Homo sapiens: one gene and its partners. The protein of the gene in region 3 interacts with the protein of the main gene of each other region in a biochemical or structural test. Each region holds a gene or a part of one and is shown on either strand. Other genes may lie near its edges. The genes, in order: PINK1, MGMT and PRKACA.

Region 1 (3,500 bases), on a different chromosome or scaffold from region 3:
TCTATGCCAACTACTGTACTAGACTTGGAATAATGGAGAAAATTCAGGCACAGTCCTTGCTCTTAGGGAGCTCACATGATTACTCATTGATGAATATCTCTCTCCCCTGATAGACTGCAAATCCATGAGGACAGGGACTCTGTCTTGTTCTGTGCCATAGTTCCACAGCATTCCAGCATGATGTCTGGTACTCAGCATGCAAACAGTGCGTATTGGTTGAATGAATAATAGTACAGCTAATAGCAGCTGAGAGCTTCCTCTGTGCTAGACACGATTCTAGGTGCCTTCCACACTTTGACAACCTTATGCAGCGTGTTAACACTGCATTCCCCTTGCACCCTGGAGATTGAGCCCAGAGAAGATAAGGACAGAGGGGACACATTCCAAGATAGATCCCCCAGTGGATGCCTGAAGCCACAGATAGTAACAAACCCTATATATACTGTGTTTTTTCCTATACACACATACCTATGGTAAAGTTTAATTTATAAATTAGGCACAGTAAAAAATTAAAGATAACTAATAAAATAGAATAATTATGACAATATACTGTAATAAAAGTTATGTGAATGTGGTCTCTCTCTCTCTCCTCTCTCTAAATATCTTCTTGTACTCACCTATTCTCAAACTGTAGATAACTGAAATTGCAGAAAGCAAAACTGTGGATAAGGTTGGGGCTACTGCAACTCAGCCAAGGACTTACAGTGGCAGACCTGGAATGCAAACCCAGGCAGTCTGATACCAGGGTTTCTCCACCTGTGTTCTGCCACATGGGATGGATAGGATGGATGGGTGTACGGATGGACGGACGGACAGACGGATGGACAAATGGATTGAAGGATGGGTAGGGGAGTCATCAGATGTGTTCTCCAACACCATGTACAGTACCTGGCACATAGCAAATCTATGATAAACATTTGATAGTAAGTGAATAATGAATGTCAGTGCCAGTGTTGGTGTGGCCTTAGGTTATTCTTTCCAGGTGTTGTATCTGATGCTGGCCTCATATGTTTGTCTCACTTGGCTGACTAGAAAATCCAAGAGAGGTCCCAAGCAACTAGCCCCTCACCCCAACATCATCCGGGTTCTCCGCGCCTTCACCTCTTCCGTGCCGCTGCTGCCAGGGGCCCTGGTCGACTACCCTGATGTGCTGCCCTCACGCCTCCACCCTGAAGGCCTGGGCCATGGCCGGACGCTGTTCCTCGTTATGAAGAAGTAAGTGACAGCAGCGCGGCAGGGCCTGGAGCTGATACATCTCCCAAGGGGAGCTGGTTCCTGCCCTCCATGTGCACCTTGATCAGGGGGTTTTGGAGAACAGGGTCATCACCCTTCCGGAGAAGAAAGCCATGCAAAGGGAACATATCTGCCCTGGAGAGCATTTTCCCTGTAGGACGATTTTTCATGGAAACAAACTCTCATCTTCATCCAGAACATACTTGTCACCTAGTCCTTTTGGTCCATTTGACTGTTAACCTTTTCTGTGGCTGGACTTATCTGTTTTTAACATAAAAACCGTTCTCCTTCCTCACCCTCTGTATCCCCTAACTTTGCTATAGTGGGTATTTTATTTTAAGGAAATAATTATCTGCACCATTACTTTGAATATAGGGAGCCCCAACTCTTACTTCCTAATTTGAGGATGGTGAGTGGGAGGGAACAGAAAGGATGCTGGGGAAAAGTGGGAATCAAAGTGCTCCTGGAAGGGGAAGAGGAACGGCCTAACCCTAACAGTGATTAAGGTTATTAGGAGGCCGGGAATGGTGGCTGACGCCTGTAATCCCAGCACTTTGGAAGGCGGAGGTGGGTAGATCACTTGAGGTCAGGAGTTTGAGACCAGCCTGGCCAACATGATGAAACCCTGTATCTACTAAACATACAAAAATTAGCCTGGTGTGGTGGCGGGCACCTATAATCCCAGCTACTCGGGAGGCTGAGGTAGGAGAATTGCTTGAACCTGGAAGGTGGAGGTTGCAGTGAGCCAAGATCGTGCTACTGCACTCCAGCTTGGCGACAGAGTGAGACTCCATCTCAAAAAAAAAAAAAAAAACGTATTGGGAGTCGTCGATGTGTGGTAGCCAGAGGCCCTCTCCCCTCTCCGCCAGCTATCCCTGTACCCTGCGCCAGTACCTTTGTGTGAACACACCCAGCCCCCGCCTCGCCGCCATGATGCTGCTGCAGCTGCTGGAAGGCGTGGACCATCTGGTTCAACAGGGCATCGCGCACAGAGACCTGAAATCCGACAACATCCTTGTGGAGCTGGACCCAGGTAGGAACCTGCTGCACCATCAGAGCTCTCCAGGGGCACTAGAGGGTGGGTCAGGAGCATTTAGGACTGACTCTTCAGGTCCTCTCTGGTTTTGTGTTCTAAGTCATGTCTTTATTTAGCTCCGCACACAAGAGGTTAGCAATCTCTCCCTTAGAACGGGGTTTTTTTTTCTCTCTTTGCAGAGAGACAGCACTTCCCAAGTTCCTTTCTCTAGCCCACTTAAAGAACAAGGACCTCAGTGCTGCAAGTTTTCCTAGGTAAATAAAGAGGCCCGGCACAGTGGCTGACACCTGTAATCCCAACACTTTGGGAGGCTTGCTTGAGGATTGCTTGAGGCCAGCAGTTTGAGACCAGCCTGGGAAACAGAGTGAGATCCCTTCTCTACAAAAAAAAAATATGTTTTAAATTAGCCGGAAAAAAAGTTAGCCAGGCATGGTGGCATGCACCTGTAGCCCCAGCTACTTGGGAGGCTGAGGTCGGAGGATCACTTGAGCCTAGGAGTTAAGAGTCTGCAATGAGCTATGAATGTGCCACTGTACTCCAGCCTGGGCAGCAGAGTGAGATCCTATCTCAAAAAAATAATAAAAAATAATAAAGTAAAAGAGAAGTAGACTTTAGCTCATTATAAAAAATAACTTTCGGCCGGGGGTAGTGGCTCACGCCTGTAATCCCAGCACTTTGAGAGGCTGAGGCGGGCAGATCATGAGGTCAAGAGATCGAGACCATCCTGGCCAACATGGTGAAACCCCATCTCTACTAAAAATACAAAAATTAGCTGGGCATGGTGGCGGGCGCCTGTAATCTCAGCTACTTGGGAAGCTGAGGCAGGAGAATTGCTTGAACCCGGGAGGCGGAGGTTGTAGTGAGCCGAGATTGTGCCACTGCATTCCAGCCTGGCGACAGAGTGAGAGTCCATCTCAAAATAAATTAATTAATTAATTAAATTTTTCAAACAATGAAAGCTGTCCAAATGTAAGCCCAGTTGCCTCTGGAAATGAGTTGCCTACCACTGGAAGCATTCAAGTAGAAGCTGAATGGCCACTTGCCTAGGAAAATTGTAAGGAGATTCATACATCTGATAAATTTTTGAACTAGAAGATTTAAAATAATTGACTAGAGGAACTGGCTTTTATTATTTCTTTATTTATTTACTTATTTATTTATTTATTTATTTGAGACAGAATCTTGCTTTGTTGCCCAGGCTGGAGTGCAGTGGCGCCATCTCAGCTCACTG
Region 2 (3,727 bases), on a different chromosome or scaffold from region 3:
CCTACGCTGTTAGCTCTGCAGGCCTGTCTTGGACATAGGTAAGTAGAAGTTGGAGACCTTGTGTTGTGGACCAAATGTTGCAAGATGTGTGTTCTGTGGCTTTTCATTAACTGCTGCATATCTGCTGGTTGGTGGACATAGTCTAGTTTTCTTTTGACTTAAAAAAATTAACAGTACAGCTTATATCGGAGGGCTGCATAGTTTGGGGGAAACTAATGAATATAGTATGGAATGTAATGAATGACTGACTTCTTCATAGAGCTATTGAAGTGATTTATGAAGAGGAAGAAATCATTTTTGTGACTTTGTTGATCTTTGAAGTATTAGAGTGGCTTTGGCAGGTGTGGATCACCCGGAAAGGAATCAAACACTGAGTCCTGCCAAGGTGCTCGGTCCCGGCAGCAAAGCCAGTCCTCAGCAGCCTGCGCTCCCGAAGCTCCTCCAGCTAAGTAACTGAATAGGCCGCCCTGGGAGCTGCCCATGCGGATGCTCTGAATGGTGAAACTTGGTTTTGACACCACAAGTTGTTTTCAGTTAAATCAGTGGCTCAGCAGCAGAGCAGGGTTCTCCAAGGAGGCCTCGTGTCCCCTTCACCCCACCTGGAGGTAGCTGTTCTAAAACCAGTAAAAAATTCTACAAAAACATTTTCTTAGGGTTGTTAAATTAGTCATAGTGTGTGTAACCATGAAAGGAATGGTGAGAGTGCAATAAATGCCTGGTGTGTTCACTCTCCTACTCCTAAAAGTTTCTTGGTAGAATAATTTCCTACCTGTGATGCTTGCGAAGTCAGCAGAGGCTCCCACCCAGCCCTGCCGCCCATTCCCAGAAGTCTGGGCTGGGGGACACCGAATGGATAGTCCACCAGCGGCGTGGCTTGTGAAAGGAGGTACTTGTTAAATCTATGTGTTTTTATTATAGACATCGTTCTGCCAGTCGCAATAATGTGTTTATGGACATTTTTCTGCAAGCACAGCGCGGGTGGCAGTTTTTACTGACAAATTGAGTCATATGCATAGAGGTTTAGAAAGCGCTTGCCTTATTGACGGATCAGGCAATTCTGGCACGGGATGTTCAGAGATATTTAGGTGGGTGAAGAGAGTGAATGAATCTCAGGGCAGAGAAGGAGATGGGGCATTATATGTTGAAATGCAATAAATAATCGCTAGTTATTTATCATTTGTTTTTAAACTTTTAGCTACATTGTACTTCCCAGTCAAGAGGACTCCGGTGGGCAGCCGGGGATATCATGTTCAGGTGTCTCTCCTGCTTGTGTGGGGTAAGAGCCACTACTGGAATGCGATTCCAGCAAGGCCTGACGAGTCACAGCCCCTTGAACCTGTTGCTCTCCGTAAAGTGGGATCTTCACAGGCAACAGTGGAGGAGCGTTTGAGGGTGACCTGGGCCCTCTGCATCAGAATTACTGTGGGTGCTGGCTAGAGAGGTCTCTCGATTGCAGGGCCCCATGGGAGACCTACAGGACCAGAACCTGGGGATGCCAGGGGATTCTGGCAGACCCTAATGCTTGAGCACCTCTAGGGAAGGCCTTAGGATCCTCTGGGAAGTAGCACTCTCCAGCCCAGGCAAGATCCGAGTCCCCCTTCCAGAAGTATCCATCGGCAGTTGGCATTGCTGCAGGTTTTCTGTGCATATGGGTCTGAGTACGGTTTTGTAACTCCTGAGAGACGTGAATCTCTTCAAATTGCAAACCCAACATGTTATTATTGCTTTTGAGTTTTCAGTTTTGTGGTTATGACAAGATGCAGATGTTACCAAAACTTTGGCGTCAGTTTTACAAACACACGCGAAGCACGGGCAACCCGTATCATATTTCACCCCTTCTTTCCTTTTGAGAGGGTTGTCTTGTTTTTAATCCCCCTCTGGGTCAAGGCATTTTCCTGGTCTCAGGTGAGGGTGCACTTTCAGAGGCACAGCTGAATACATTTTGTGGGACTGAATTGAGCTTTTCTACAGGAAGTGCCAGGCCGTGTGTGGGAGTGATGCTGTTTCCTAGCTGGGTCCCCCTGGGCAACTCTTAGCCCTCCAGGCACCTCCTCATCCATTGGGTGGGGACGATTATGCTTATTCGGTCTACCCGGGTAAGTATAGGCACACGAGACAGTAAATACATATTTTTTTAAAAGTAAAATTTCTATCCACTACATGGATAGAAATTTTAATTTGGAGCTGAGTCTCACGGAAGGATGAAACGAGAAGACGGCGAAGAACCATTTCGAGCCCTCGTTTTCCCCCCAGTCCAATCCGAATCTGTATTTTGCAGATCTGCACACACCCAAGCCCTCACTGGGGGCATGTGCACGGTGGTCAGAAGTGCACCTTCTGGGAACAGATGGGCTTCCGTTTGGACCTGCTTTACAAGTTACAATCCTGTGCCCTTGAGCAGAGTTACTTAACCTTCCAAGGCCAGATTTCTCCAAAAGCAGGGCCAGGGACAGTTCCCATCCAGAAGGAGGCCTGGCGCTGGGGAGGCCTGAATGAAGGCGGTTGGTGTTTGCGGATGCAGAGTCGCTCTGTTTTGGTGGAGGCAGGACTGGAGGTCGGGATCACTTGGCCACATTTGCCACCTCTGGTGCGTCTGAGGTCACAGTGCATTGTCTGTGTGCAGCATAAGGTAGTTCCCTATTCATTTACTAGGTCCCTGAAGTCCTTTTGTCTGTAAAGAGGCTACTGGCTCTGCCACCTGCTTCTGTCTTTTCACAGTAGACATTCTCGACGTGGCAGCATTCTAAAGGTTCAGGTGTGCCACATCGGCCTAGAGTGGGCAGGTGGGCTTCATGTGTGCTCCTAGGGGCACTTGGCAGTTGCTGATAGCCCGAGACACTGGGAGCCTTGACATTATTCATCTGTTATATTGAAAGAACTTCCCAAAGGACGGACACAGGATCTGACACGATGGCAGTGGCCAGGAACCAGCAGTGACACCAGCATGTGACAGTATTTTCCCATGTGTGACGGCCGTTTAGATCACAGCAGTGAGGGGTAACGCAGGTCCGCTGGGTAAACTTGGTCAAAAATGGGAAGTCTGCAGCATTTCGTGTGTTTGTGGAAATGGGCCTTATTTTTATTTGGGGTGTCTCCTTAATCTCCTGTCATGGTTCAGCTCACCCTGGTGGTTATTCTGGGCGTGCTGCGCTTGTTGCCTTGTACAGACCAACTTAGGAAAGGCTCACCACCACCCCATGAAGGAGAAGGCGCTGTGAGTGTCTTTATTTTGCATATGAGGAACCCGGGCCTCGGAGAGTTTGAGTGACTTGCACAGGTCTCCTGGGATAGAGGTAGAGTTTTGTTTTCAACCCAGATTTATTTGATAACCAAGTGCAGGCTCATAACCACTTGTGCCAGGCTGGCTTTGCAACGATGAGCCTGAGAAGCTGTTAGAAGTCCTTTAAGGGGCAAGACAGGGTGTAAACAGACACAGACCTGTTTATGTAGCTAATGTTTTCTGAACATCAATGTGACCAAGTGTTGTCTTTAGCATTGTGGGAAAAGCAATTCGCCCAAGTGTATTCCTGCTTGAAGGCGTTGAGCCGTAGCTGAGGCTGGGTGCAGTGAGGACTTGGGGATGGCAAAGCTGTCCCTGCGTGTGCCTTGTGCCTACCCCGCACCCCACTAGAGAGTGGAACGACCAGGGCAGTGGGGCCAGAGGAAAGATGGGAGGATGCAGAGGGCCAGCCATGTCCCGGGACTGTGCACACGCTTCACCATGTCC
Region 3 (3,727 bases):
CATGGGATTCTGGAACCGCGGGGTTGGGGCTGGACAGCAAGGGGGCTTGAGGTGTTGGCCTCAGTGTGGCCGGCGCGTCCAGCTTCACCACCTGGCCTGACTTAAGGAACTTCTAGATTATTCTGACAACAAGCAGGGCTCCCCAGGGAATAGGATGGGTGAGCAGGGAACGGTCTGTTTCTTCCAGGGCTGTGTCCCCACATCCGGACCTCACCTTCCCAGAGACGATCTTCTCATAGATCTGGATGGGCTGGTCTGCGAAGAAGGGCGGGTAGCCAGCGGCCATTTCATAGATAAGAACCCCCAGGGCCCACCAGTCCACGGCCTTGTTGTAGCCCTGGAGCAAGATGGGGGGGCACAGGGTGAGGAGGAGGCGAGAGCAGGAGAGCAGAGCCGGCCTCAGGGGAAGGGGAGGGCTGGGGAGGCTCCTACTTTGCTCAGGATAATCTCAGGGGCCAGGTACTCAGGGGTGCCGCACAAGGTCCAAGTGCGGCCCTTCACGCGCTTGGCGAAACCGAAGTCTGTCACCTGTGGGCACAAGAACAGGCAGTTGGCAGGGAGGAAGGGTCCAGGCCACGGCTTCCCCAGGGCTGCCCCTCGCCCGGCCTGGTGGGCACCTGAATGTAGCCCTGCTGGTCAATGAGCAGATTCTCCGGCTTCAGGTCCCTGTAGATGAGATCCAGCGAGTGCAGATACTCAAAGGTCAGGACGATCTGGGCCGCGTAGAAACGGGCATGGGGCTCACTGATGGGGACAAATGGGGAGGTGAACGTCAGTGGTCATGCCCCAAAATGGTCCAGCAGGTGGCCCTGCAGAGCCTACCCCAGAGGAAGACACCTCCAGTCCAGCCGTCAGAAACGCAAGGCACCTGATTCTTAGATAGCCCGACATGGGAAACAGCCTGTGGGTCCATCCACAGGAAAATGGAATCACAGACTGAGCTATAGTCATACAATGGAATTCCACTCACCACCACCACCGCCAACAGGACAGCCCATGCATCCACTCAACAATGTGGCTGCATTTCAAACTGATTATGTTAAGCAAAAGAAGACACAAAAGAACATGAATGATTCCATTTATATCATGTCCACGCCCAGACAAAACAAAGGCACGGTGTTTGAAGTCAGAAAGGACAACTGCCTTTGGTGGGGAGGTGACGTGTCAAGAGAGGGATTCGGCCCGGTGCGGTGGCTCACCCCTGTAATCCCAGCATTTTGGGGGGTCGAGGTGGGAAGATCGCTTGAGCCCAGGAGTTCGAGACCAGCCTGGGCAATATAGGCAAGACCTCACCTCTGTATGTATGTAGATATGTGTGTGTGTGTGTATATATATATATATATTTTTTTTTGATTAATTTATTTTTTTTAAGACAGTCTCGCTCTCTTGCCCAGGCTGGAGTGCAATGGCATAATCTCGGCTCACTGCAACCTTTGCCTCCTGGAAACAAGTGATTCTCTTGCCTCAGCCTCCTGAGTAGCTGGGATTACAGGTGTGCACCACCACGCCCGGCTAATTTTTATATTTTTAGTAGAGACGGGGTTTCACCATGTTGGTCAGGCTGGTCTCGAACTCCTGACCTTGTGATTCGCCCGCCTCGGCCTCCCAAAGTGCTGGGATTACAGGCGTGAGCCATGGCACCCGGCCTCCACCTCTGTATGTTATTGGAAAAAAAAAAAAAAAAAAAAGGGATTCAAGGGAATTTTCTTAGGTGATAGAAAAGTTCCATATACTGTTTTGGGTGGAGGTTAGGTAGCTATATACAACTGTCAAAACTTGTAGCATGGAACATTGAAGAACTGTGCATTTTGTTGTATGTAAAGTGAATCTATAGTTATCTATCTAAAATACAACTACAAGGCCAGCGCGGTGGCCCATGCCTGTAATCCCAGCATCTTGAGAGGCCAAGGCGGGGGGGGCGGATCACCTGAGGTCAGGAGTTCGAGACCAGCCTGGCCAACATGGTGAAACCCCATCTCTACTAAAAATACAAAAATTAGCCAGGCAAGGGGGCATGCACCTGTAGTCCCAGCTACTTGGGAGGCTGAGACAAGAGAATCACTTGAACCCGGGAGGCAGAGTTTGCATGGAGCCGAGATCGTGCCACTGCACTCCAGCCTGGGTGACAAGAGTGAAACTCTGTCTCAAAAAATAAAATCAAATAAAACTACGTATGTAAACTTATAAGTTAATAAGACAAATTTATAAGTTAAAAATTTTTTTTTTCTTTCAGCAGGGTCTGACTGGGTTACAACCCAGTCTGGACTGCAGCAGCGTGATCACGGCTTATGCAGTCTTTTTTTTTTTTTGCATATGTTGAACCAGCCTTGCATCCTAGGGATGAAGGTGGGCTCATGCAGTCTTGACCTCCCAGACTCAGGTGATCTTCCCACCTCAGCCTCCCCAGGAGCTGGGACTACAGGAATGTGCCACCACACCTGACTTTTTTTTTTTTTTTTTGTATTTTTTTGTAGAGATGGGGTCTTGCTATGTAAGGCTGGTCTCAAATTCCTGGGCTCTAGCAATCTGCCCACCTTGGCCTCCCCAAGTGGGATTATAGGGCATGAGCCACAGTACCCAGCCTGTATCTTAAACTTACAAATTTCTGTATATAGATTTATTTTATGTATAAAAATATATATTAAAATCTACACATATAAAACTGTCCACCTATATAAAATAAAATAATAGTATAATTTTTATTTTATTTTTTTGAGACGGAGTCTCGCTCTGTCACCCAGGCTGGAAGTGCAGTGGCGCGATCTCGGCTCACTGCAAACTCCGCCTCCCGGGTTCACGCCATTCTGCCTCAGCCTCCCGAGTAGCTGGGACTATAGGCGCCCGCCATCACACCCGGCTAATTTTTTTGTATTTTTTTAGTAGAGACGGGGTTTCACCATGTTAACCAGGATGGTCTTGATCTCCTGACCTCGTGATCCGCCCGCCTCGGCCTCCCAAAGTTCTAGGATTACAGGCACGAGCCACTGCGCCCAGCCAATTTTTTTTTTTTAAAAGAGACAAAACCTCACTATGCAGCCCAGGCTGGTCTCAAATTCTTGAGCTCAAATGATCTTCTCACCTCAGCCTCAGGACTAGTGGGACTACAGATGCATGCCACCTTTTGGGGCTCAAAAAATGCACAAAATCAACAACTTCAATTTTTTTTTTTGAGACGGCATGTCACTCTCTCACCCAGGCTGGAGTACAGTGGTGTGATCTTGGCTCACTGCAACCTCTGTCTCCTGGGTTCAAGTGATTCTCCTGCCTCAGCCTCCCAAGTAGCTGGGATTACAGGTGCCCACCACCATGCCCAGCTCAGTTTTGTATTTTTAGTGGAGACAGGGTTTTGCCATGTTGGCCAGGCTGGTCTCAAACTCCTGACCTCAGGTGATCTGCCCACCTTGGCCTCCCAAAGTGCTGGGATTACTGGTGAGAACCACCGTGCCTGGCAGCAACTTCAGTTTGGACACCTAAGTTGCCCTGTTTGCTCTGTTTTGTTTTGTGGTGGTTGAAATATCACATATTCCTCAGCAGAGGGGAAACAGAAACCCACAGGGTCTGGGAGACCACCTGCATGTTGAAGTATGCTGGACTCCTCTGCATTCCCAGGGGGCTTGGTCGTGCACTGCCACCTGTGGACACCCTGACAGCCTGATGTGATGGGGGGTGGCCCGCTTACCTGAACCTTCCGATCCGCCGTAGGTGTGAGAACATCTCCCCGCCGGGC

Evidence for each region.
Region 1: of the proteins of PRKACA (region 3) and PINK1, one has a biochemical effect on the other in vitro, tested with the Homo sapiens proteins (one study listed by BioGRID).
Region 2: of the proteins of PRKACA (region 3) and MGMT, one has a biochemical effect on the other in vitro, tested with the Homo sapiens proteins (one study listed by BioGRID).

What each region holds. Positions count from the first base shown.
Region 1 is NC_000001.11:20,643,458-20,646,957, forward strand, and holds part of PINK1 (serine/threonine-protein kinase PINK1, mitochondrial precursor), read left to right. Parts: intron 1-1,032; coding exon 1,033-1,215; intron 1,216-2,102; coding exon 2,103-2,266; intron 2,267-3,500. UniProt on the Homo sapiens protein: Serine/threonine-protein kinase which acts as a sensor of mitochondrial damage and protects against mitochondrial dysfunction during cellular stress.
Region 2 is NC_000010.11:129,470,232-129,473,958, forward strand, and holds part of MGMT (methylated-DNA--protein-cysteine methyltransferase), read left to right. Parts: intron 1-3,727. UniProt on the Homo sapiens protein: Involved in the cellular defense against the biological effects of O6-methylguanine (O6-MeG) and O4-methylthymine (O4-MeT) in DNA. Repairs the methylated nucleobase in DNA by stoichiometrically transferring the methyl group to a cysteine residue in the enzyme.
Region 3 is NC_000019.10:14,097,147-14,100,873, forward strand, and holds part of PRKACA (cAMP-dependent protein kinase catalytic subunit alpha), read right to left. Parts: coding exon 3,680-3,727; intron 745-3,679; coding exon 618-744; intron 529-617; coding exon 433-528; intron 338-432; coding exon 215-337; intron 1-214.